Homo sapiens: one gene and its partners. The protein of the gene in region 1 interacts with the protein of each later gene in a biochemical or structural test. Each region holds a gene or a part of one and is shown on either strand. Other genes may lie near its edges. The genes, in order: RNF4, UBE2D4, EIF2A, RBBP8, HNF4A, UBE2B and TOP2A.

Region 1 (3,500 bases):
CAGAGCAGTCCAAATCTCAAAGCTCCAAAATGATCTCCTTTGACTCCATGTCTCACATCCAGGTCACGCTGATCCAAGAGGTGAGTTCCCATGGCCTTAGGCAGCTCCACCCCTGTGGCTTTGCAGAGTACAGCCTCCCTCCCGGCTGTTTTCACTGGGTGGTGTTGAGTGTCTGCAGCTTTTCCAGGTGTACAGGGCAAGCTGTCAGTGGATCTATCATTCTGGGGTGTGGAGGACAGTGGCCCTCTTCCCACAGCTCTACCAGGTGGTGCTCCAGTAGGGACTCTGCTTGGGGGCTCCAACCCCACATTTCCCTTCCACACTGCCCTAGCGGAGGTTCTCCATGAGTGTCCCGCCCCTGCAGCAAACTTCTGCCTGGGCATCCAGGTGTTTCCATGCATCCTCTGAAATCTAGTGGAGGTTCCCAAACCCTCATTGTTGACTTCTGCGCACTCGCAGGCTCAACACCATGTGGAAGCTGCCAAGGTTTGGGGCCTGCACCTTCTGAAACCACAGCCTGAGTTCTACTCTATGTTGGCCCCTTTTGGCCACAGCTGAGACGGCTGGAACGCAGGGCACCAGGCCCCTAGGCTGCACACAGCAGGGGAACCCTGGGCCCAGCCCAGGAAACCATATTTTCCTCCTGGGCATCTGGGCCTATGATGGGAGGGGCTGCCATGAAGGCCTGTGACATGCCCTGGAGACATTTCCCCCCACTGTCTTGGGGATTAACGTTTGGCTCCCTGTTACTTATGCAAATCTCTGCAGCTGGCTTTAATTTCCCCTCAGAAAATGGAATTTTATTTTCTAGCACATTGACAGGAGGCTGCAAATTTTCCAAACTTTTATGCTCTGCTTCCCTTATAAAACTGAATGCCTTTAACTGTACCCAAGTCATCTCTTGAATGCTTTGCTGCTTAGAAATTTATTCTGCCAGATACCCTAAATCATCTTTCTCAAGTTCAAAGTTCCACAAATCTCTAGGGCAGGGGCAAAATGCGGCTAGTCTCTTTGCTGAAACATAACAGGAGTGACCCTTGCTCCAGTTCCCAACAAGTTCCTCATCTCCATCTGAGACCATCTCAGCCTGGATTTCATTGTCCATATCCTTATCAACATTTTGGTCAAAGCCATTCAACAAGTCTCTAGCGAGTTCCAAACTTTCCCACATTTTCCTGTCTTCTTCTGAGCCCTCCAAACTGTTCCAATCCCTGCCTGCTACCCAGTTGCAAAGCTGTTTCCAAATTTTCAGGTATCTTTTCAGCAGCATCGCACTCTACTGGTACCAACTTACTGTACCAGTATGTTTTCACGATGCTAATAAAGACATACCTGAGACTGGGCAATTTACAAAAGCAAGAAGTTTACAAAAGCCAGTTCCAAATGGCCGGGGAGGCTTCACAATCATGGCGGAAGGCAAGGAGAAGCAAGTAAGTCATGCCTTACATAGATGGCAGCAGGCAAAGAGAGCTTGTGTAGGGAAACTCCCCCTTATAAAAGCATCAGATCTCTTTTGTTTTTTTAGATTAAGTCTACTCTGTTGTCCAAGCTGGAGTGCAGTGGCATGATCTCGGCTCACTGTAATCTCCACCTCCTGGGTTCAAGCAATTCTCCTGCCTCAGCCTCCCAAGTAGCTGGAACTACAGGCATGTACCACCATGTCCAGCTAATTTTTGTATTTTTAGTAGAGACAGGGTTTCACTATGTTGGCCACACTCATCTTGAACTCCTAACCTCGTGATCCGCCCGCCTTGGCCTCCCAAAGTGCTGGGATTACAGGCATCAGCCACCGCCCCCGACCTAAAGCATCAGATCTCTTGAGACTTATTCACCATCATGAGAACAGCATGGGAAAGACCTGCCCCCAAGATTCAATTGCCTCCCACTGGGTCCCTCCCACAACATGTAGGAATTCAATGTGAGATTTGGGTGGGGACACAGCCAAACCATATCAGCACCTGTATTCCCATTTACTTGGGACACTGAGGCAAGAGGATTAATTTAGCTTAAAGTTTGAGGCTGTAGGCAGGGCATGGTGGCTCATGCTTATAATCCCAGCACTTTGGGAGGCTGAGGCGGGCAGATCACCTGAAGTCAGGAGTTCAAGACCAGGCTGGCCAACATAGTGAAACCCTGTCTCTAATAAAAATACAAAAATGAGCTAGACGTGGTGCTGCCCACCTGTAATCCCAGCTACTCGGGAGGCTGAGACAGGTGAATCACTTGAACCCAGGAGGTGGAGGTTGAAGTGAGTTGAGAAAGAACAAGATTCTGTCTTTAAAAAAAAAAAAAAGTTTTAGGCTGTACTGTGCTATATAATTGCACCTGCAAATAGCCACTGCACTCCTGCCCGGGAAACATAGGAAGACAACCTTCTCTTAAATTAAAAAAAAAAAAAAAAGAAAGAAAGAAAAGGGCTGGACGTGGTGGCTCACACCTGTAATCCCAGCACTTTGGGAGGCCGAGGTGGGTGGATCACAAGGTCAGGAGTTCGAGACAGGCTGGCCAACATGGTGAAACCCCATCTCTAGTAAAGATACAAAAAATTAGCCAGCCGTGGTGGCACATGCCTGTAATCCCAGGTCCTTAGGAGGCTGAGGCAGGAGAATTGCTTGAACCCGGGAGGCAGAGGTTGCAGTGCTGAGATCGTGCCACTGTACTCCAGCCTGGGTGACAGAGCAAGACTCCGTCTCAAAAAACAAACAAAAAACAAAAAAACACAGATGATCATGATGGGAGAATAGGAGAGAACATTTCTACCTGAGGCATTTTCAACTTTTCAACTTGCAAGAGTAGGAGGCGAGAACCAACACTGGAAGACATCAAGAAGGTACTTACAAGGGAAGCAAATTTTAGTGCAGGTAACACAGAATGCTGCCATATTTAGGAGCAGAATTTAGCAGTAGTTTGGCTAAAGTAAGAGGTGAGGTGTGGCAGACAGGGAAATGCCTAGGCCCTAGGACAACTTCCCTTAGCTGGTGAGAGGAGAAAACTTAGGAAAAATAACTTTGAGGAATACAATACAGTTACTGAGAATCAATAAATTTTCTTGAGGATAATTATCAGACTCCTCTGCGGTGAAAGCAAAAATAAAGATACTATTTTGTTTTTACTATTTGAAGTTTCTAGAAACATTGGCCATGTGCTTTCCCACCACACAAAAAAAGCAGATGACATAACAAAGCCTAACAAAAGGAACAAAGGTAGGAGTCAGGGGTGGGGTGAAGTTTCGAGCTCTGCTTACTAATTGTGTGACCTTGGGCAAGTGACCCTGATCTCCCAGTGCCTCAGGAAGAGTAAAATGGGGCTAACTACAACAACTATCTTATAGAGTGGTTCTGTAAGAGAGTAAGAAGTAGGGAATCACTCAACCATAGATATTAAATCATGAGTCTGGAGTCTGAGACCAGCCTGGACAAAAGGGCAAGACCCAGTCTACAAAACTTTGTTAAAAATTAGCCAGGTGTGGGCCAGGCGAGGTGGCTCACGCCTGTAATCCC
Region 2 (3,500 bases), on another chromosome or scaffold:
TCAGCCGAGGTGGTCCTCACTGTGTGGCCTGAGGCATGCTGTGCTAGGATACTTCCCTCCTGGGTGCATCCTGGTTCTCATTCCCCTTCTCCACTGAAGCACCCCATCTTAGTCTCCAACTGCCCTCCCATCCTTGTCTGTACCCTACATCATGAACCTCTGGCATTTAGTCCTAGGAGTCCTGTTTACTGTTAAGGAAACAAGAATTCAGAGCATTCAAGTAACTTGTCCAAGGTCACAGACTTGGAACACCCAATAAATGGATTAAAATGAGATTCTGGACCAGGTGCGGTGGCTCTTGCCTGTAATCCCAGCACTTTGGGAGGCCGAGGCAGGCAGATCACCTGAGGTCGGGAGTTCAAGACCAGCCTGACCAACATGGAGAAACCCTGTCTCTACTAAAAAAATACAAAATTAGCCAGGCATAGTGGTGCATGCTTGTAATCCCAGCTACTCAGGAGGCTGAGGCAGGAGAATCTCTTGAACCTGGGAGGTGGAGGTTGCAGTGAGCCGAGATCGCGCCATTGCACTCCACCCTGGGCAACAAGAGCAAAACTCGATCTCAAAAAAAAAATAAAGAAATTCTGAACCAGGTCCTTCTAACTGCAAAGCAGATGCATCCTCCTCTGTGCCAGCACCGTCTCTAAGATGTGCACTCAATGTGGCTCTCAGCAACCCTAGGGGAAGGGAATCACCCACTAGGGCTGTGGTGAGGAGCAGAAGGAATTGTGGTGCCTGGATTCTTGGGGTCCCAGAGAGAAATGCACACTTTCATTCCTGGCTTTGCTTTCGACTCACCATATGATTCCAAACAAACTGGATTCAGTGAGTCCATCAAAGTTCTGACCACAGGTCCCCACACATAAAGCTACAAATGACAGGGGCAGGTTTGCCTTTCTTAAGATACTTGGCTGGGCACAGTGGCTCACGCCTATAATCCCAGTGCTTTGGGAGGCCACAATGGGAGGACTGCTTGAGGCCAGGAGTTTGAGAATGGCCTGGGCAACAAAGTGAGACCCTGTCTCCTCTACAGAAAAATTTAAAATTTAGGCCAGGCTCTGTTTCTCTTGGGTTGATTTTTCACCATCCTCCCACGCTCCACCTGCCAGGATACTGCACCATCTACATTCAGGTCTCTCGTGCATACATAGCCCATGCACAGCCCATCTTAATTCAGAAGGAATATCTGCATTTCTAAGCTCAGTTTAGACTGGTTTCTTCAACTTCAACCAAAGACATGTGCTCAACATCATTTATTTTGGGAAGGGAGGATTTCTCCACCAACTTCGAGGCCCCCGGAGGCATGCCCTGTATCTTCCTTCAGGGCTGACTCACAGTCCGTTTTGTGCTTATTAGATGAATAAATGAGGGAACAGAGAAGGTAATGTAATATTTGCCTTTCTTATTTTTGGATAAAAAAATATAAGTAGAATCAGTATTTTCTTCTTGCACCCATGTGACAGTCTTGAGCACACCAGGGCAATTGACTGCTGAGAAGCGCCAGGGAGCGGGGCACAAAGTTCTGCTGGTGCTGCCTCGTAGGCGTGTAAGGATATCCACTTAAGGGCACAGCAGTGGACAGGGCTATGTGACCTGGGAAAGGTGACTTCTTTCTCTGAGCTTCCATTTCCACTCAGTCAGTGCTGGGGTAAAAACATGTGTAAAAGAGCACACAGAGCATGCCATCAGCATCTCTACCTTTTGACACAGTCAACGCTGGAGACCACTGAGACCGCAGGATATCAAGGCAGATGCTGCCATTGCTGTTGATATTAGGGTGATAAATTTTGGTTGTGAAAGCAACCTGCAAAGACAAGAGATCCCCAATCAGACAAACCACAGGGACGTGTGGGAAATGAACCAAGTAAAGCAGAAGCAGCTGCTGCTGGGCAGTACCTGGAGTGTGCTGCATACCTGGCCCCACAGTGCAGGCTAAGCCAGACCCCCACTCCCAAACTCTAATGGGATATGGGAGTGAGTGATCACCCAGAAGTTCCCTGACCCATTCCCTGCTGGATTCTCATTCTGAACATAGGGGGATTGATACCATCTCCCTGAAAGCAGTATGCTCTGAGGAATAACAAGGGTGGTGGAAAGGACTCAAAAGCCCAGGAAGTTTTATGCAAAAAGCAGTGATGTTTTGTTGATGTATCAGCAGAAAAGCTCAGGCCCAAAGACTTCATGACTAAAACACCAAAAGCAATGGCAACGAAAGCCAAAATAGACAAATGGGATCTAACTAAACTAAAGAGCTTCTGCACAGCAAAAGAAACTATCATCAGAGTGAACAGGCAACCGACAGAATGGGAGAAAAATTTTGCAATCTACCCATCTGACAAAGGGCTAATATCCAGAATCTACAAAGAACTTAAACATATTTGTAAGAAAAAATCAAACAACCCTATCAAAAAGTGGGCAAAGGATATGAACAGACACTTCTCAAAAGAAGACATTTATGCAGCCAACAGACACATAAAAAATGCTCATCATCACTGGTCATCAGAGAAATGCAAATCAAAACCACAATGAGATACTATCTCACAGCAGTTAGAATGGCGATCATTAAAAATCAGGAAACAACAGATGCTGGAGAGGATGTGGAGAAATAGGAATGCTTTTACACTGGTGGTGGGAGTGTAAATTAGTTCAACCATTGTGGAAGACAGTGTGGTGATTCCTCAAGGTATTCCTCTAGTACTAGAAATGCCATTTGATTCAGTAGTGATCCCATTACTGGGTACATACCCAAAGGATTATAAATCATGCTACTATAAAGACACATGCACATGTATGTTTATTGCGGCACTATTCACAATAGCAAAGACTTGGAACCAACCCAAATGTCCATCAATGATACATTGGATTAAGAAAATGTGGCATATATACACCATGGAATACTATGCAGCCATAAAAAAGGATAAGTTCACATCCTTTGCAGAGACATGGATGAAACTGGAAACCATCATTCTCAGCAAACTATCACAAGGACAGAAAACCAAACACTGGGCCAGGCATGGTGGCTCACACCTGTAATCCCAGCACTTTGGGAGGCTGAGACAGGCGGATCACCTGAGGTCAGCAGTTCGAGACCAGCCTCAACATGGAGAAACCCCATCTCTATTAAAAATACAAAATTAGCCGGGCATGGTGGTGCAGGCCTGTAATCCCAGCTACTCGGGAGGCTGAGGCAGGAGAATTGCTTGAACCTGGGAGGTGGATGTTGCGGTGAGCCGAGATCACGCCATTGCACTCCATCCTGGGCAACAAGAGCGAAACTCTGTCTCAAAAAAAAAAAAAGAAAACCAAACACTGCATGTTCTCACTCATAGATGGGAATTGAACAATGAGAACACAGGGACACAGGGCGGGGAACATCACATACCAGGGCCTGTCGGGGGGTGGGGGCTGAGGCAGGGATAGCATTAGGAGAAATACGTAATGTAAATGATGAGTTGATGGGTGCAGCAAACCAACATGGCACATGTATACCTATGTAACAA
Region 3 (3,500 bases), on another chromosome or scaffold:
ATGATTTATAGTAGTTGTGTGGATTTTTTTCGTCTCAAGTGAAAGGCTCTCAGTGGCTACATGATGCTCATAAGCGTGGAAGAGACTTGTAACTTATCTTTTCTTCTTGTATCATTTTTCATCAAAGTTCTGAGCAGAAACTTTTCGGCCAAAGTAAACTACTACAGAAGAGCCCACTATTGAAAGAATTTTCATATTATGTATAAAACAAATGTTCAGCAAATATTGTATAACTTAAGTAGCATTTTATGCAACATGGATAAAAATGAAATGAAAGAGCCTTGCACTCCAAATTTGTCTGCTGTTCTACAAATGTGGGTTCTCATAATATTCAGTTTGTTTCAAGTAGAATATGAACATACCCAGAACTTTGATGACCTGAAATAGTTAATGCATTTGCTAAGATAAGGTCACTTTATGGTTTCTTATTTATTACTCTGCATCTTAAGTGTTTGAGCTCTGCTCATTTCCATATAGAACTTATAAGTAAAATGCGGATCTGAGACCTAGTACTCAAGAAACTTCATGGAGAGCTGGTACTTTTGATGTGCTGAGTTATGGTACAGTCTAAGAGACAGTTAACATTAAAATAATAGCAATATAGATAGAAATCAGTAAGTACCTGAATCTGATAGAGAGTTGTAGTGCCATCACTTATACTGTATGTTGTCTAAAACTGTTCTGGAGATACATTGAATCTATAATTCACCATCTTTTCTATTGTGGAATATAGTTGTTACATGGTTACATGAATATCTGATGTTGGAAATGATTGTCTTCATTGTGTAATCTGACAAGCCATGTAATTTTTTTTTGGTCTCTTCATATGTCAATCCCAGATTTGTAATTATCTAGTTAATTACTCCTTTCTATTTCATTTATTTTCTTATAATCTATTCTTGTTTTTTCATTTGCTTTTATTTTTAATCTTCTAATTTCTGATTTTACAAGTAAAGATCTAGCAAGTAATTCTTTGTGTGAAGAAAACAAGCGAGGCAACTGGGTTTCTGTTGACAATAGTTAGAACCAAAAAGGCCTCAGAAGAAGCTGTTGTTGGTATCTAGTTTTCATAAGAATCATGTGTCTGTAGTAGTGCTAAGAAAAATTCTGTTTGAACAAAACTAAAGTGAATTTTGCCAGCTCTGATATGATTGAAAGATATAGGAACTAATAGGAAGACCCTAATTAAATCCATCCTGACAGTTGGAGTGTGCCACTACCAATGAGTTTCAAAATAATCTTTGCTAATGATCTTAAATTTGATAAAATAAGTTTATCCTATATTAGCAGAAGTGTATAATTTGTTGTTGTAGGTGTTTACAACATGGACTCCATTTCAAAATTATTTTACATTTTCCATAGCATGAAGAGGAACCACCTCAGAATATGAAACCACAATCAGGAAACGATAAGCCATTATCAAAAACAGCTCTTAAAAATCAAAGGAAGCATGAAGCTAAGAAAGCTGCAAAGCAGGTATTTGGGGCACTAATCTCATAACAAAACAAATAGTCAGTTATGGCCGGGCGCAGTGGCTCACGCCCGTAATCCCAGCACTTTGGGAGGCTGAGGCGAGTGGATCACTTGAGGTTAGAAGTTCAAGACCAGACTGGCCAACGTGGTGAAACCCTGTCTCTACTAAAAATTCAAAAATTAGTTGGCCATGGCTTATAATCTCAGCTACTCAGGAGGCTGAGGCAGGAGAATTACTTGAACCTGGGAGGTGGAGGTTGCAGTGAGCCATGATCGCATCACTGCACTCTAGCCTTCCAGCCTGTGCGACAGAGAGAGACTCCATCTCCAAAAAAAAAGGCAGTTAAGTTAGCTTTAAGCCTTAAAGTTTAAAGAATTGTGGTCCTAAATACTTGACTGTGACCAGGTGTGGTGGCTCATGCCTGTAACCCAGCACTTTGGGAGGCCAACGTGGGAGAATTGCTTGAGCCCAGTTCGAGACCAGCCTGGGCAACATAGTGAGACCCCCATCTCTATGAAAAATTTTTTGCTGGGCACAATGGCGTGTACCCCGTAGTCCCAGCTGCTTGGGAAGCTGAGATGGTAGGATCACTTGAGCTTGGGAGGTTGAGGCTGCAGTGAGCTGTGATTGTACCACTTCAGCCTGAGTAACAGAGCAAGACCATGACTCGAAAAAAAAAGAAAAAAAGCACAAAAAACCTTGGCTCTTACGTTATAAAATGTAGTTGGAGTTAGACTTAAATAGGCAGAATATCTTTCTTTTGTCTTTGCCTATGAATTTCTAAGTAATCCTGTCTATATGATGGGTGACAAAAGAAACTGGACTTGACATCATAACCTGAGACACTAATGGTATTATGTAAGCATGTTACTTGCTGTAGACCCTTTTGGTGGCACTTGTGTGAAGTGGTGTAGTTTGCTTTCCTTGAAGCATGTATTTACTAAGAGAAGCTGGAAATTACATGACTAGAAAGCCATTTGGGCACTCAGTATTATAGTACTATATGAAATTATTTAACTGGGAATCGAAATACCAGAAGTACCCAAATAATGGGATATTTCCAAAATAGTTTCTTACTTGATTACGTAGTTGAAAAGCCACACCAGTGTAAATAATTGACAAATTGTGATATTGTATAGCTCATGGTGATAATGTGATTGGCTGGGCTGGGGATGTCTGGTTAGTGAAGTTATGGTGATCACATTTTTGCAATTCAGGTAGAGTACATGTCTCAATCCATTCAGGCTGCTACCTTATACTAGGTAATTCATAAACAAATTTATTGCTCACAGTTCTAGAAGCTGGGGCGCTGGCAGATTTGGTATCTGGTGAGAACCCGTTCATCATAGATGGCACCTTCTTTCTGTGTGTCCTCCCATGGTGGAAGGGGCAGTGGAGCTCTCTTTGGTCTCTTTTATAAAGCTACTAATCTCATTCTTGAGTGTGGAATCCTCATGACTTAATCATTTTCCAAATGCCCCACCTTTTAATACTATTACATTGGGTATTAGGTCCCAAACTATGAATTTGAGGGAAACACCAATATGTCAGACTGTAGCAGTGGGGTAGGGTTTTTGGATGTTTTGTTTTTGTTTCTTTTGAGACACTCTGTCTCACTCTGTTATCTAGGCTGGAGTGCAGAGGCATGATCACGGCTCACTGCAACCCCAGACCCTGAGCTCAACTAATCCTGCCTCAGCTTCCCAAGTAACTAGGACTGTACATGTACACCACCATTCCCAACTAATTTTTTTATTTTTGTAAAGATAGGTTATCGCTATGTTTTTCAAGCAGGAAATGGGAGTAGGTTTTTTTGGTTTGGTTTTGGCTTGGTTTTTTTTTTTGAGACCGAGTTTTGCCATGTTGCCCAGGCTAGTCGCAAACTCCTGAGCTCAAGCAGTCTTTCCACCTCAGCCTCCCAAAGTGCTTGGATTACAGGCGTGAGCCACTGTGCCCATCCTAGAAAGGGCAGATTTTTAACAGCTGGTTGCTATATCAGTATAGTCTTGCTGATAATTCTTGAATT
Region 4 (3,500 bases), on another chromosome or scaffold:
CCCTCAACTAGATCATAAGCTCCATGAGGACAAGGGCTTTGTTTTATTCAGTGCCTGGTATACAACAGATGCTTCAATATTTGTTGAACAAATAAGTAAATCACAGTAAAGCCTTCTTTACTTAAAATTATTAGTAATTTATATTAATATGATTAGGGATATTTATATGAATAGGATAACATTACTTTCCAATATGAAAAAGATAGTAAACTAGTAATATAAACAAAATTATATGGAAAATACCTTTAAAATATTGTCTAAGTTAGACTGTGGGTCACTGTTACCCACCAATAACCACAATTTTAAACTTGTAAAGTAATCTCAGTATCTTGCTTACTGGCCATTGGAGATTGACTTTGGTCATAAGTGTCAGCTACTAGAATTTCATTTTCATTAGGATTATGTTGTGGATGAGTTGAAGACTTGGAAACTTTTCTCATTTCTAAGGGGAGAAAAAAATAAGAGATTACACAATAAACAATGATGATGAAAAGCATTATCAAATTATTTTTATTTATTCATATTTAAAATTTTTATGTATTATCTGTATTTAAATCCAATATAAGTACTGTTTTATTGACATAATTATCATATTCTAAGAAGTAAGCTCCTTTAATTTCACTAAGAAACAAAGCTGTTTAAGTTAAGACATTGGGAGAGAGGGGACTAGAACAGACAGCTTCTTCTAACCCAAATTGCCTAGAGTAGTAACATTTTAGTGTTACTTCTCTTTTTATATTTGTTACAAATCAGCAGGTTAATTTAAAAAGGTATACTGGGCTGGGCACAGTGGCTCATGACTGTAATCTGAGCACCTTGGGAGGCTGAGGCAGGAGGATCTCTTGAGCCTAAAAGTTCCAGGCTGTAGTAAGCTACAGATCACACCACAGTACTCCACCCTGGATGACAGAGTGAGACCCTATCTCAAATAATCAATCAATAAACAAATGATCAATCAATCTAATGTATACTATATCATTTATCTCCATGATCTTTGTTTTAGAGTTTCTATTTTCGGGAAGGAAACTCTGAAGCATGCTTTATCAGAAATCACTCCAATATTTAAAGATTTAGTTCAAAGAAAACCAAAATAAGGACAAGGTAAAGTGAAATGGTTTTACTATTTATAACTTGAGAGTAATATTAAAAAGCATTATAAACCTTAAAATAAGCAAGCAAGGGAAGTTAGAGAACAGGACTAATTAGTCATTAAAGCATTTAAAATTATTATTATTATTATTATTTTTGAGATGGAGTCTTGCTCTGTTGCCCAGGCTGGAGTGCAGTGGCATGATCTCAGCTCACTGCAACCTCCACCTCCAGGGTTCAAGCAAGTCTCCTGCTTCAGCCTCTCGAGTAGCTGGGACTGCACGCGTGTGCCACCACGCCCAGCTAATTTTTTATATTTTTAGTACATACAGGGTTTCACCATGTTAGCCAGGATGGTCTCGATCTCCTGACCTCGTGATCCACCCACCTTGGCCTCCCAAAGTGCTGGGATTACAGGTGTGAGCCACCGTGCCCGGCCTTAAAATTATTTTAAAATCATTTGTATGGCTCAAGGTTATCGTACATCTTAAAACCAAATTTCAGATTCCAAGTAAAAAATGATCAGAACAAGGTTAAAGCAAGTGAATTAAATTTCTAAATAGTTACATGCTGCTTTCATACAAAGAAGAAATAAACCAGAAGCATTTATATTGGTTACAAAAGACTTTCCTAATATGGAATTGTTTTCTAGATATTCTTATTTGTGAATTTAAACCTGATGTAAATTATGCAGTGATTATCTTTAATGATTCATGTCCTGTCTGATAGCAAACTAAAAGGTCAACGGATATTCATTTTAGATCTATGATTTTACATTTTAACTTAGCTCCTATTTAAGTGTAGGATTTTTAACAGTTCTTTTGTTTTCCACTAGATGGTGATACAAACGCTTATAAAGTGGGGGAAAACTGTCAATGTTCCAACATCTAAGAATAAGATCTGCTTATTTGTTTAAAGGCATATTTACTGTCAACAATTTATTTGTATTATACAAATATAGTAGTACATATATATCCCCCGTCCCCCATGCTTTCCTTGTTGCAAATAGTTTAGGTTAAAAATTAAAGTCTTTACTGTTTGCTTTAGATTAATACTAAAAGTAATACTTGTATCATGGCACATAACAAATTTTGGGACTATGTGAAAAGACAGTTTTAAAGCATTTAGCAGAAATGATAAACTAGGCTGGAATTAGAAACATGTCACTGAAAAGCCACAAAGTGTACATATTATAACACCATTTCTTGATTACCACTAACTCCTACAAATTACAACAAATAAAAATAGCCAGTTACAGACAGCTCCAATGGCAGGAGTACCCATGTGGCAAGACCTGGAGAGTAGGAAAGTTCAGAGCTAAGAAGATCTGTATTTGAATTTTGACTCATCTACATAATAGCTGACCTTGAGTGAGTTAACCTTTCTAAACATATCTTTCCTCATCTATAAAACAAAAGAGCTGATAGTTATCTCACAAGCCTGTTACGAGAATTAAAACATAGCAATAATACATGCAAATCACTCAGCATAATACCTGGTACACAGGAGGTAGAAATTAACATTAAGTTCCTTTCCTTTTTCCTTCTATCCCACTTGGATATATACACATAGGAATATTTTTAAAATAAAAAGAAAAAAGAAACTATTTACTACATTTATAAAATATGGTATATTTACATGTCATATAGATGACACGTATCTATACATAACACGGGCAGAAAACGCCTTCTCAGTCACTTTACAAATAGAAGTTAAACTCATAGTTGTACCATGGGATACCAGAATAGTGACTATCTTCTTATCACTAGATTGAATAACATAAAAACTAGTAGATGAACACTGGTTTACAAAACCAGAGAACTAAAATACAACTCCAACTCTTACCATTTGCACACACAGAGTGCTCCAATTTAGTATGTGTTTGTTCTATGTATCGGACATGGGGGTTCTCCTTTCTTCGTAGCCGGTTAACGCCAGAAAATGAGAAGGCTGTTATCGGTGAATCTGGAATAACGTCTTCCTCACATTCAAGCTCAGCTGCTTGATGCTGTTGATCATTCCTAGAGAAGAATGACAATGGAAAGAAAATCAATTCAATGAGTATTAAAACATTTACTACATGGCATGGAGTTACAGTAGAACACAAACATGAAGCTCTAAGGGATGTAATCCCTTGCATCTAATGTTCCAAACCTAAGTAGATAAGTACACGAATGATTACAGTACCCAGTGGGAAATACTATGTGAGAAGTGAAGTAGAAAGTATAGTCAATAGCACTTCAGGTGAAATTAAAAGTATTTCAAATTGCAGACAAGATCAGGAGAGAACCCACAGTCTGAGGAAAGGCATGCAGTACTGTGTACTTATGTTGGAGAAGGGAAAGCTGGAATTACATGAACGAGAGCCATGAGCTCAATGTGCACATAATGTAGAAAGCAAGAGGAAAGAA
Region 5 (3,500 bases), on another chromosome or scaffold:
GCTTGGCACATAGTAAGCACTATATCAGTGTTCATGAAATAAAAACTTTTCCACATAGGAAAACTCTCGGAGCAGAGGACTTCCAGGCTCCTTGCACAAGCAGACACTGCCGCATCTCATTTCTGCCATCGCAGACTCCCAGGTGTCCCCAGGAGTGCAGCCCCCTCCACTTGGTGAATTATTCCTGGAGATGGGGATAATTGTTAAGCCACGTGGGTGCCCTTTCTCCCTCGGCCTCTCCTCCCCCGACCCCCGGGGAGAGCTGACCCCCACAGCTCCTGGCCATTCAGCAGGAGGCTGGGGAAGTAGCTCCCACCTCTGAGGCAGGATGGGCTGGGGGCTGTCAGCTCTATCATCTCCCCTCTGAGGTCAGCCGAGCACCTCTATTCCACAGATGAGGACACTGAGGCTTAGAGAGGAAAAGTGGCTTCCTGGTGTCATCGCACTGCTTCCCGTGAAGCAGAGCCATGGGTTTATGGTCCAGGCTTGCTGGGCTACTCCAGCCAGTGCCACACATGTTGAGGTGTCTGCTGGGCCTCTAATGAACAAGGAGCCACCCAGGGCTGCTGCTCCATTGGGGTGGGGAGAGGACGGGGGAGAAATATCCTTGGAGCCTTTCAGACACCAGCCCAGGATGTACTCAAAACACTTCAGAGGACAACTTCACATAACCCCAATTCAGACCACTTCAAACTCCAGTGAGGAATGTGGGGACCCTGCTTACAGATGCTCAGAGCCCTTGAGATGACCCATGGTGGGGCCAGGCCCTTTACCAGGGCTAAGCACCCAGGCACCTCATCTTATTTATCCTCTGGCCAGCCCTGGGAGACAGACACTATTATTTATTCCCATTTTATAGGTGAGGAAACTGAGGCTCAGAGAGGAAATTGCCTTGCCACATTCACACAGGTTGGAAGGATCTATGCCGGATTTGAGCCCAGATCTTTCTGGTTCCAGAGCTGGAGGTGGTCTTGTCTTTGGGACTCCCAGTTCAGGGGCTTGGCCTCTGCCTCAGGAGCACACAGTTCCTGGGCTTGGAAAAAGTGATGGGGGCGGGGAGCAGCCCAGGGCAGGGCAGTGGTCCTCGTGGGGCCACACAACACTCCACCTAGTGCAGCAGCAGCTTGTTTGCTATCTCTGGTGTGTTTTTGCCTTGCGCTCCTGGCGTGGTCCTCAGACAGGCCTAAAAGCCGTCCAGCCAGCAGGCCTGGGGGAATGAAGCCTGTTTTGTAGAAGATACAGAAGCCAGGATAGGGGAGGTGACATGCCCAAGGTCACACGTGACTGGACGGCAGGGGCAGGTGAGCACCTGCTGAGCTGACAACAAGCAGTGCCCAGCAGCTGCCTCCTCACCCTAGCTGAGCTGACCACAAGATTCCAGACCTCAGCTGGAGCTGCAGCCTCATACTGGCTGAGTGGCTCCAAGACACAGAAGGAAGCAGGGTGGCAGGCTGACCTCAGCCAGCTGCCTGCCCCCTCTCCTCTGAGGCTGGCCTGGGACCGATGGGGCTCTTCCCTCCAGGAGGGGTTTCCGGGCCTCCTCTTTTCCCCTACCTCCCTGTGGAGAACTGTCCACCCCTCCAGATATGCTCCAGTGATGTCGGAGGGGATGCCTCAATCTGGCGAGACGCAGCGGCAACAAAATCTGCTCAGAGACAAACGGACATGTTGCTGATATGAATCTCACTTGGTGAGTGGCAACAACAGAGTCCTGCATTTGGGTCTGTGCAGTCGTGCACACCAGAGACCGCTGACCCCCGCCCGCAGCACAGGGAACTGCATATATACACAGCAGGTACAAATATGGGCACACGACAAAACGCCCATACAGGATAAAGATGCAGGAAGAACAGGGCACTCCAACAGGTCCGCATGCACAAACGCATGTGCTCTATGACCCGCACACACAGCACACATGTACAAACATCCACAGACACAAGTACACACACATACACACTTACATACATAAGCAAGATCAACACGGGCAACTCCTAAGACACAAACACAGACCCACTCAATGAATACAAAGGAAAATAGACCCAGAACTCACACACAGAGACAAATGAACACACATATGCAAATGGGTTCCTGAAGGCATCACCCCACCCATACAACCTACATGGAAACTCACTATCACACACGAACGCACACACAACACACACAGTGCTGAGTTGGCTTCGTAGTTAGCAAAACTTCCCTGAGAGCTCCATTTTCCCTAAGTGCCAATTTCATTTCCCTAGGAAAGTCCCAAAGACACCGAGAAATGCGGTTATGTCTCCAACCACCATCTCCAGGGATACAACATCCCTTGCCGTCTCTCTGAACCTAGGCCCAAGGGGTTCACGAAGGGGCCGTGCTGGGCTGAATCGCTGGAGCTGGGCACCAAGGGGGAGCTCACCATCACGTCACTGTGCCAAGCGCCAAGCAGAGCCACTGTGAGGCAGTGAGGACTGGAAGGGCCTGGGAGGAATAGCCGGGATCGACTTTTGCTGGAAATTGGCCCTTGCAGGCCTCCCTTCACCCAGAATGCCTGTGATCACTGTGCCTGGGCACATGGGCTTCACTTGGCAACACCTGTGCTGGCCTGTAGGACCAACCTACCATTTTGTATCATTCTCCTCCCACCCCAAAGTTGAGTGCCAAAGATCTGCTCCTGGACCCAGGCACACCTGCCCCCACTGGCACACCTGGGCACATCTGCCCCCACCTACCATTGCCCATCGTCAACACCTGCACATTCTCAAATTCCAGGGTGGTGTAGGCTGGGTCCAGTGCAGCACTGTAGTCGGCCATGTCCATGTCGACGAGGGTTTTGGAGAGTCGCATTCTCCCTGCCTCCACGCCGCGGCCACCTGCCCTACCCTGGGCGCCCACCCCGAAGGCCCCCGCCCTCCGCCCTCCCACTGCCTCCTCCCAGTGCCCTCTCTGCCTTCCTTTCAAACCGTCCTCTGGGAAGATCTGCTGGGAGTCTTGGCCTAGCCTCTGTGAAGGGGTGGAGGCTCTGCCGGGGAGGGGTGGGGGTTAATGGTTAATCGGTCCCCCGCCGGTGGATAGGCTGGGCGGGGCTGCAGGGATTTGGCTGTTTGTTGGTTTCTGGCTGACACCCGGGGTGCTAATTACAACTGCTGGGGCCCTAACTCACCGATGTTCAGTTATCAATTGTACAAGGCAGGCATCATGACTCACGGGCACTCATTTGACCCTTGACTCACCCACCCCTCCAAGCCATTGTCACCCCAAGTCAGGCATTCTAACTGATACTATCAGGCACTGACAGCCTACCTCCGAGATCCCCTAATTCAATAACTTCCCAAATCATTGACTTCTACCCTCAATGCTTTTGCAGAGATAAGGCTGCCCCATGGCCCACGATTTAGAAACCTAAATCCCAGGCCCCAGATGCCAATCTTCTGGATCCTTGTTCTGGGAGCTCCCTTCCAGTTCCCCCGCAGTTTCCCGGTTCCCCTGGGAGCAGAATGGACTGGAAGTTTGGGAGGGCC
Region 6 (3,500 bases), on another chromosome or scaffold:
TAAGGACTAAAACTGCAAGATAAATTAGAAAAAAAAAATATTTCAATTAGAGTTTTGGCCCAGCACAGTAGTAGCTCAACGCCTGGGAGGATCGCTGGAGCCCAGGAGTTCACCAGCCTGGGCGATATAGTGAGACAGTGAGACTCTGTCCCCTCCCCACCAAAAAAAGTTTTGGCCCAGTCTGGGCAACATAGTGAGCCCTTGTCTCTACAAAAAGTATAAAACTAGCTGAGCATGGTGGTGCATACCTGTGGTCCCAGCTACTTGGAAGGCTGAGGCAGGAGGATCACTTGAGCCCAGAAGTTTGAGGCTGCAGTGTGCCATGATTGTGCCACTGCCCTCCAACATGGGCAGCCAGCAGAGCCAAGATCCTGTATCAAAAAAAAAAAGGAAAAAGTTTCAGCAGTTATATAAAGTTTATTTGCTCTTTGATGTTATTACATATGGTTTTATAATCTCTTGGGGTTTTACTTTTAAAATACTATTCAAAACTAAATGGAATGGAATAATAAAGGAGAAACAATAAGTTACTTTATATAAAACATATCACGCAAATGCTCTCATTCTGTTGGAGCTGTTAAAAGGTTTGGAACCAAAAATATTAAGAACTTCCACTGTGGCAAGAATTTAAGCGAAAATGATTCACAGCCCAGTGTGAAATAACAGAATGCAGCCATTTGAGAAGCAGTTGTAAATTTTACCTACTATGTATATTGCGTATATGCTTTTTAATTTAAAATTTCCTTATGCTTTTTCTTTGGTTTTTCTAGACTTGATCTATTTTTTCTTTCATTCCTTTGAAACTAGAGTTTTGCATTAAAAAGTAAAAGGAGTATGTTGATAAACAGAATTCTGACACTACAGAATCAGCTACAAGAGTCTACATTTAAAGACTAGTGGAAAATGAGTGAAGTTCATCCTCATAAAGTACTTCTGAATTTGAGTTGAATACATGGCACCTTCAGGATATTATCCTGCTGCTTTGAGATCCTGAATATGCCTTGCAAGTAATAATTAAACTTTATGCTCCATCCTGGCTAACACGGTGAAACCCCGTCTCTACTGAAAATACAAAAAAAAATTAGCCGGGCGAGGTGGCGGGCGCCTGTAGTCCCAGCTACTCGGGAGGCTGAGGCAGGAGAATGGCGTGAACCCCAGGGGGCGGAGGCTGCAGTGAGCCGAGATTGCGCCACTGCACTCCAGCCTGGGCGACAGCGAGACTCCGTCTCAAAAAAAAAAAAAAAAAAAAAAAAAAAAACTTTATGCTGCTGCTTAGGAAAGATGAAATTGGGATGTGGGGACAAGGATCTGAGCAAACAAATCTGGCTTTTTGGTGACAACTATGCTTAGCCTATTTGAACAAGAGTTATGGCTCCATTGGAAAGCAGGACACTTGGGTTTAGCATCATAACTAGAGTATTGCTTTACATCATATTGCTGTAAAATGAAAAGATGTCTTTTCCTCTTAAGAATATACATATGGGCCAGGTGCGGTGGCTCACGCCTCTAAATCCCAGCACTTTGGGAGGCTGCGATGAGTGGATCACCTGAGGTCAGGAGTTCGAAACCAGCCTGGCCAATATGGTGAAACCCCGTTTCTACTAAAAATACAAAAATTAGCCAGGCATCTGTAATCCCACCTACTCGGGAGGTTGAGGTAGGAGAATCACTTGAATCCAGGAGAAGGAGGTTGCAGTGAGCTGAGATCATGCCATTGCACTCCAGCCTGGGGGACAAGAGCAAAACTCCGTCTCAAAAAAAAAAAAAAAAAAAAAAAAAAATATATATATATATATACACATATGTACAAAATGACTGGTCAGTATTAATGAAAGTTTTTTTGTGCTAAAATTATGGGCAAGTTTTTTTGTTTGGTTTGGTAAAACCACCCTAAAAAGAAAGCTTAGAATGAAAGTTAATACTTTATGCCTGGGTCTATGAAAATCCAGGGCTAAGGTGTTACTAAACTCTATCTTAAAACTCCACAAATCATCAGAATGAGTCCCTCTTTTTCTGTTGAAGTTTATCCTTTCCATTCTTGAAAATCAAGAAAAAGCAGAATGAGAAACTTCTTTTAATCAGAAATCTTCTTGTTTTCAGACCAGAAGGGACACCTTTTGAAGATGGTAAGTCATACTCATTATGTTTTCTATAGTGTTATGAGGTTACTTTTTAGTAGAAAATTGTAACACCAACATATCTACTTGAAGCCATTTTCTATGGTTAATAGGCCAAGTTAAAAGTAAAGCTATGGAAAATTTATACTTCATAAGGGACTTCTTCCCACAGCAGCTTGGTCACCTCCATTGGTAACCAATATTAAAGGTTACTTTAATATTTTCCTGTATAACTGTAAGCCTGGATGGCAGTGTTTATGTTGAGAATAGTTTAAATTTAGGTGGCCTTAAAGATATCTCTGAGGTGAACACCAGAAGAGTAAATCATGCTTTTTTACTTTGTTATCTTTGATATTGACAGGGTGTTGAGCTGAAATTTTTCATAAACATACATAGCTGCCAGTAGTTTCAAGTACTACTAGCATTTAACACCCATAAGTAGTTATCATTTTGCATAATCTTTGGCATCTCAAGTTGGGTATTTTCATCAGGGGCTAGGAAAATGGGAAACTAGTTCTAATACCGAATTTATAATTGAACTTATCAAACTGATTTTAACCAGGAACTTAGACTTTTCCCAATTGTAGTGTTGGATTTTAAGAAATTATTAAACATCTTTGTTATCATTAACAAAATGACTTCAGAATTAATCCATCAAAAATATTTATCCGAGAATACTGACTGCAGCAGTTTGTAAGGACGTAACCTGAATGTCCAGTAGGAGAAATGGTTAAGCAAATTATGATGTATCTGGATTCTGGAATATGTACCTGTTAAAGAATAAGGTAGATTTGGACATACTGTCTTAAGAGGACAAAAAAACTGCACGATAATGTTTGTCGTAGCATCACATTTTTAGCAAATACATATATGCATGTGTGTCTATGTTAAAGGGTTATATATCAAACTGTTACCAGTGATTATCTGTGGGGGGGGTAAGGAGTTGAAGGAGGTACTTAAGGACGTTACCTTTTTTCTCTACATCAAGGGTTCTCAAGTGTGTGATCCATAAACCCCTTGGGGTCTTGGAGACCCTCTCGGGGGACCCATACGATCAAATCTCATCATACTAAGACTGTTGACCTTTGCATTGATGGTACAAAACCAATGGTGGCTATAACTACACCTAAGTAGTTTCGTATCTTAGAACAAATCAAGGCATTAGACAGTGGCACCAAACCATACTAATAGTGATTATATTCTTTGCATTTTAAAAGATGCCAGTTGGCCAGGGGCAGTAGCTCACACCTGTATAGCCAGCACTTTGGGAGGCTTAGGCAGGTGGATCATGGATCACTTGAGCCCAGGAGTTTGAGACCAGCCTGGGGGAGCCCTTCTCTACAAAAAATTAGCCAGGCATGGTGGTACATGCCTTTAGTCCCA
Region 7 (3,500 bases), on another chromosome or scaffold:
TATCCCTTCTATGGTGGATGGTGAGTTCCAATTTGTTAGTCTGTTTTCATTGTAAGATGGAAATCAAATTCCAAAATTGGTTAAATTGAGGATACTTACGTTTGCTCTTATTTCATTTTAAAGGTTTGAAACCAGGTCAGAGAAAGGTTTTGTTTACTTGCTTCAAACGGAATGACAAGCGAGAAGTAAAGGTTGCCCAATTAGCTGGATCAGTGGCTGAAATGTCTTCTTATCATCATGGTGAGGTAAACACACAATCCATGTTTCCAGAAAGCATTATATCAGAAATCCCTGCAGAGTCATTCTCAAAACAGATTTGGTGAAAGTATAAGCTCATATATTCATAGTAAAGAACAAGTTGGTAAAACCTGTGAAAGAATAAAACTGCTTGCCCTTTGATTTCTGAAAGTAATATTCCTGCAGGGATATTCATAAGTCTGCAAAGGTCTACATTAAAAAATGCTTAGTATGTTTATTATAACTTTGTGATGTCAAAATTTAGACCTCCACTGATTTGAAAATTGTTATAATAAATTGTGACACATGTATGCATGGAATCAGTGCTGTAACTTCAGTAAAACTGTGTGCACTGACACTGAGGAATATCCAGGGTCTATTCTCAGGTGAGGAAAAAAAGAGACAGAACAATAACTAAAAATGTCTACAAGGATATGTTCCAAATTGTTCACTTTAGTTACCCCTGAGAACTGGAAAGGGCAACTTTCACTTTTTATATGTGTCTGAATTGTTTGACTTTACACCAATGTTTTGTGATTACTTTTTGCATTAATTATGTAAAACAGTTTTAAAGAACTAGATTGCCTACAGGTTTCTAGAATTTTAAATATAATGGTTGTCTTGTTGCTTTCAATCAAAATATAGTAGGGATACAATAAATTTTCACCCAACGAACATTTGTTGAATGCCTACCATGTACCAGGTATACAAAAATAAATAAAAATATGTTCCTTATCCCCAAGATATAATAACAATTTAGCCAGAGGGCCAATACACACACAGCTATAGAATAAAGTGATACATGCTAGAATAGAAATGAACACAGCATTGTAACACAAAGGAGGAAATATTTCATTTTGCTGAGGATAAGGAGAAGAACTATGCCTTCAAAGTTGAGTGGGATTTAATAGAAATTGTTGGACGGCAGCCCTAAACTTGGAGCCAGAAGTTGTAGGTTCAAGTACTATTTCTGCCATCTATTAATCTGAGGAAAGTCACTAAACAACTAGACCTCACAAAATGTTACAGGATTATAGTGAGGTTAAGTCATAATGTATTTGTATTAGTAAAAGCCTCAGCTTAATGAATCTTTTTTTCCCCACAGATGTCACTAATGATGACCATTATCAATTTGGCTCAGAATTTTGTGGGTAGCAATAATCTAAACCTCTTGCAGCCCATTGGTCAGTTTGGTACCAGGCTACATGGTGGCAAGGATTCTGCTAGTCCACGATACATCTTTACAATGCTCAGGTAGGTATGCTTTCACTTTCTAGTGACTTGCCATTTCCAGTTTTGAAACAATGTGAGATTTAGTTCACCAAAAATACAAAAACTCAGTTAATCAGAAGATACTGGCATCTAGTGGCAGAGGCCAGGGGTGAGGCTTATACAGGAAAGCCCCCCCATAACAATTATCCAGTGCAACATGTCAATTATGCTAAGGTTGAGAAATCCTGATGTAGAGCTTGGGACTGAGTAAAGGAGACTTTGATTCTTCCTAAATATCACAATTGAAATTTTACTCCTTTACAAGCCTATGGAAAGTATATTATGAATGGTCAATTTTCAGCTGTCATCCCAGTCACCCTTTCAGTGGCATTCAAACAGTTACTAATTGCTCCATCCTTCTTGAAACTCTTTATTTGGCCTCTATGACTGTAGACTCTTCTGGTTCTCTTCTACCTTATTAGCTTTCTCTGCTGGGTCCTTCTCACCTTCCCAACCTCTAAATACTGGCCCATTCCAGGGCTCCTTCATCAGATCTCTTTCCAATGCCTACACTCAATTCCCAAATGATCTCCCATTCATCCGTTCTATACCTTTAAATCTCCAGTCTTGGTCTCTCCCCTGAACTCCCAACTTTTATGTCTGACTGCCCTCTTAACATTTCCCACTTGGATATCTAGTTAAGTATCTCAAACATAAGTCTAAAACCAAATCCTTAGTTTTCCTGTCTCAGTAAATGGAATGCCATGCCATCCTTCTAATTGCTCAGGCTAAAAACCTTGTCACCCTTGACTCCTTTGCTTGATACTTAACATCCAGTTCCTCAGCCAATCCTATAGGATCTGCATTGGAAAAATACTAAGCCACCCCCATCTCATCTAAACTATTGTAACATATCATCTTTTCTTAAAGCAGCCAATTATTTTTTAAAAAATAAGTCACTCTGATTCAGAACCTTCAACTGCTCAGAGTAAAATCTAAAGACCTATTTTAGCTAACCAGACATTATGTGATCCGTGTCCCCACCTTCCATGTCTTTTGATTCCTTCTCATACCATCTCCTCTCCAGCCACACTGTCCTTGGCCTATACTCAAATATACCGAGCACATTTCCTCTTCAGGGCCTTTTACTTACTGGTTCCTTTGCCTGCAACACTCTTTCTCTAGATATCCACATGGTTCAGTCCCTCAGTTTGTTTTTTGTTGTTTTTTTTTCTTTTGAGATGGAGTTTTGCTCTTTTTGCCCAGGCTGGAGTGCAGTGGCGCAATTTCGGCTCATTGCAACCTCTGCCTCCTGGGTTCAAGTGATTCTCCTGCCTCAGCCTCCCGTGTTGCTGGGATTACAGGTACACGCCACCATGCTCAGCTAATTTTATATTTTTAGTAGAGATGAGGTTTCACCATGTTGGCCAGGTTGGTCTTGAACTCCTGACCTCAGGTGATCTGCCTCCCTCAGCCTCCCAAAGTGCTGGGATTACAGGCGCGAGTTACTGCACCTGGCGCCCTCAGTGTCTTTTCTCTGCTCAAATGTTTTCCTATCAGAAACGGCTTAACTTTCCTTAGCACCTCTTCAGTCACTTTCCCACTTTTTCTTCTCTTGTTTATCCCACCACCTAACAAAATATGTGTTAATTGCAAACTTCTACTGGACTGTGAGCTCCTTGAGGATTGAGACTTTATGTCCATGTGCGTGACACATAGCAAGTGCTCAATAAATATTGTTAAATGTATATTAGTCAGCAAGTAAAACCAAGATAATTTTCATGTATAATACATGTCCTTTCCATAAAAGTTAAGTGTGAAATTCAGTATTTTTGTAAAATAACATTCTTTGTTTCTTTTCTTTAGCTCTTTGGCTCGATTGTTATTTCCACCAAAAGATGATCACACGTTGAAGTTTTTATATGATGACAACCAGCGTGTTGAGCCTGAATGGTACATTCCTATTATTCCCATGGTGCTGATAAATGGTGCTGAAGGAATCGGTACTGGGTGGTCCTGCAAAATCCCCAACTTTGATGTGCGTGAAATTG

Evidence for each region.
Region 2: the proteins of RNF4 (region 1) and UBE2D4 form a complex in vitro, tested with the Homo sapiens proteins (one study listed by BioGRID).
Region 3: of the proteins of RNF4 (region 1) and EIF2A, one has a biochemical effect on the other in vitro, tested with the Homo sapiens proteins (one study listed by BioGRID).
Region 4: of the proteins of RNF4 (region 1) and RBBP8, one has a biochemical effect on the other in vitro, tested with the Homo sapiens proteins (one study listed by BioGRID).
Region 5: of the proteins of RNF4 (region 1) and HNF4A, one has a biochemical effect on the other in vitro, tested with the Homo sapiens proteins (one study listed by BioGRID).
Region 6: the proteins of RNF4 (region 1) and UBE2B form a complex in vitro, tested with the Homo sapiens proteins (one study listed by BioGRID).
Region 7: of the proteins of RNF4 (region 1) and TOP2A, one has a biochemical effect on the other in vitro, tested with the Homo sapiens proteins (one study listed by BioGRID).

What each region holds. Positions count from the first base shown.
Region 1 is NC_000004.12:2,475,606-2,479,105, reverse strand, and holds part of RNF4 (E3 ubiquitin-protein ligase RNF4), read right to left. Parts: intron 1-3,500. UniProt on the Homo sapiens protein: E3 ubiquitin-protein ligase which binds polysumoylated chains covalently attached to proteins and mediates 'Lys-6'-, 'Lys-11'-, 'Lys-48'- and 'Lys-63'-linked polyubiquitination of those substrates and their subsequent targeting to the proteasome for degradation.
Region 2 is NC_000007.14:43,946,936-43,950,435, reverse strand, and holds part of UBE2D4 (ubiquitin-conjugating enzyme E2 D4), read right to left. Parts: intron 1,805-3,500; coding exon 1,699-1,804; intron 1-1,698. UniProt on the Homo sapiens protein: Accepts ubiquitin from the E1 complex and catalyzes its covalent attachment to other proteins. In vitro able to promote polyubiquitination using all 7 ubiquitin Lys residues, but may prefer 'Lys-11' and 'Lys-48'-linked polyubiquitination.
Region 3 is NC_000003.12:150,574,287-150,577,786, forward strand, and holds part of EIF2A (eukaryotic translation initiation factor 2A), read left to right. Parts: intron 1-1,362; coding exon 1,363-1,476; intron 1,477-3,500. UniProt on the Homo sapiens protein: Functions in the early steps of protein synthesis of a small number of specific mRNAs. Acts by directing the binding of methionyl-tRNAi to 40S ribosomal subunits.
Region 4 is NC_000018.10:22,981,828-22,985,327, reverse strand, and holds part of RBBP8 (DNA endonuclease RBBP8), read right to left. Parts: intron 3,111-3,500; coding exon 2,935-3,110; intron 443-2,934; coding exon 338-442; intron 1-337. UniProt on the Homo sapiens protein: Endonuclease that cooperates with the MRE11-RAD50-NBN (MRN) complex in DNA-end resection, the first step of double-strand break (DSB) repair through the homologous recombination (HR) pathway.
Region 5 is NC_000020.11:44,400,699-44,404,198, reverse strand, and holds part of HNF4A (hepatocyte nuclear factor 4-alpha), read right to left. Parts: exon of another isoform or gene 2,827-3,500; coding exon of another isoform or gene 2,712-2,826; intron 1,646-2,711; coding exon of another isoform or gene 1,555-1,645; intron 1-1,554. UniProt on the Homo sapiens protein: Transcriptional regulator which controls the expression of hepatic genes during the transition of endodermal cells to hepatic progenitor cells, facilitating the recruitment of RNA pol II to the promoters of target genes. Activates the transcription of CYP2C38.
Region 6 is NC_000005.10:134,374,569-134,378,068, forward strand, and holds part of UBE2B (ubiquitin-conjugating enzyme E2 B), read left to right. Parts: intron 1-2,100; coding exon 2,101-2,126; intron 2,127-3,500. UniProt on the Homo sapiens protein: E2 ubiquitin-conjugating enzyme that accepts ubiquitin from the ubiquitin-activating enzyme E1 and transfers it to a E3 ubiquitin-protein ligase. In vitro catalyzes 'Lys-11'-, as well as 'Lys-48'- and 'Lys-63'-linked polyubiquitination.
Region 7 is NC_000017.11:40,400,897-40,404,396, reverse strand, and holds part of TOP2A (DNA topoisomerase 2-alpha), read left to right. Parts: coding exon 1-20; intron 21-123; coding exon 124-245; intron 246-1,342; coding exon 1,343-1,491; intron 1,492-3,315; coding exon 3,316-3,500. UniProt on the Homo sapiens protein: Key decatenating enzyme that alters DNA topology by binding to two double-stranded DNA molecules, generating a double-stranded break in one of the strands, passing the intact strand through the broken strand, and religating the broken strand.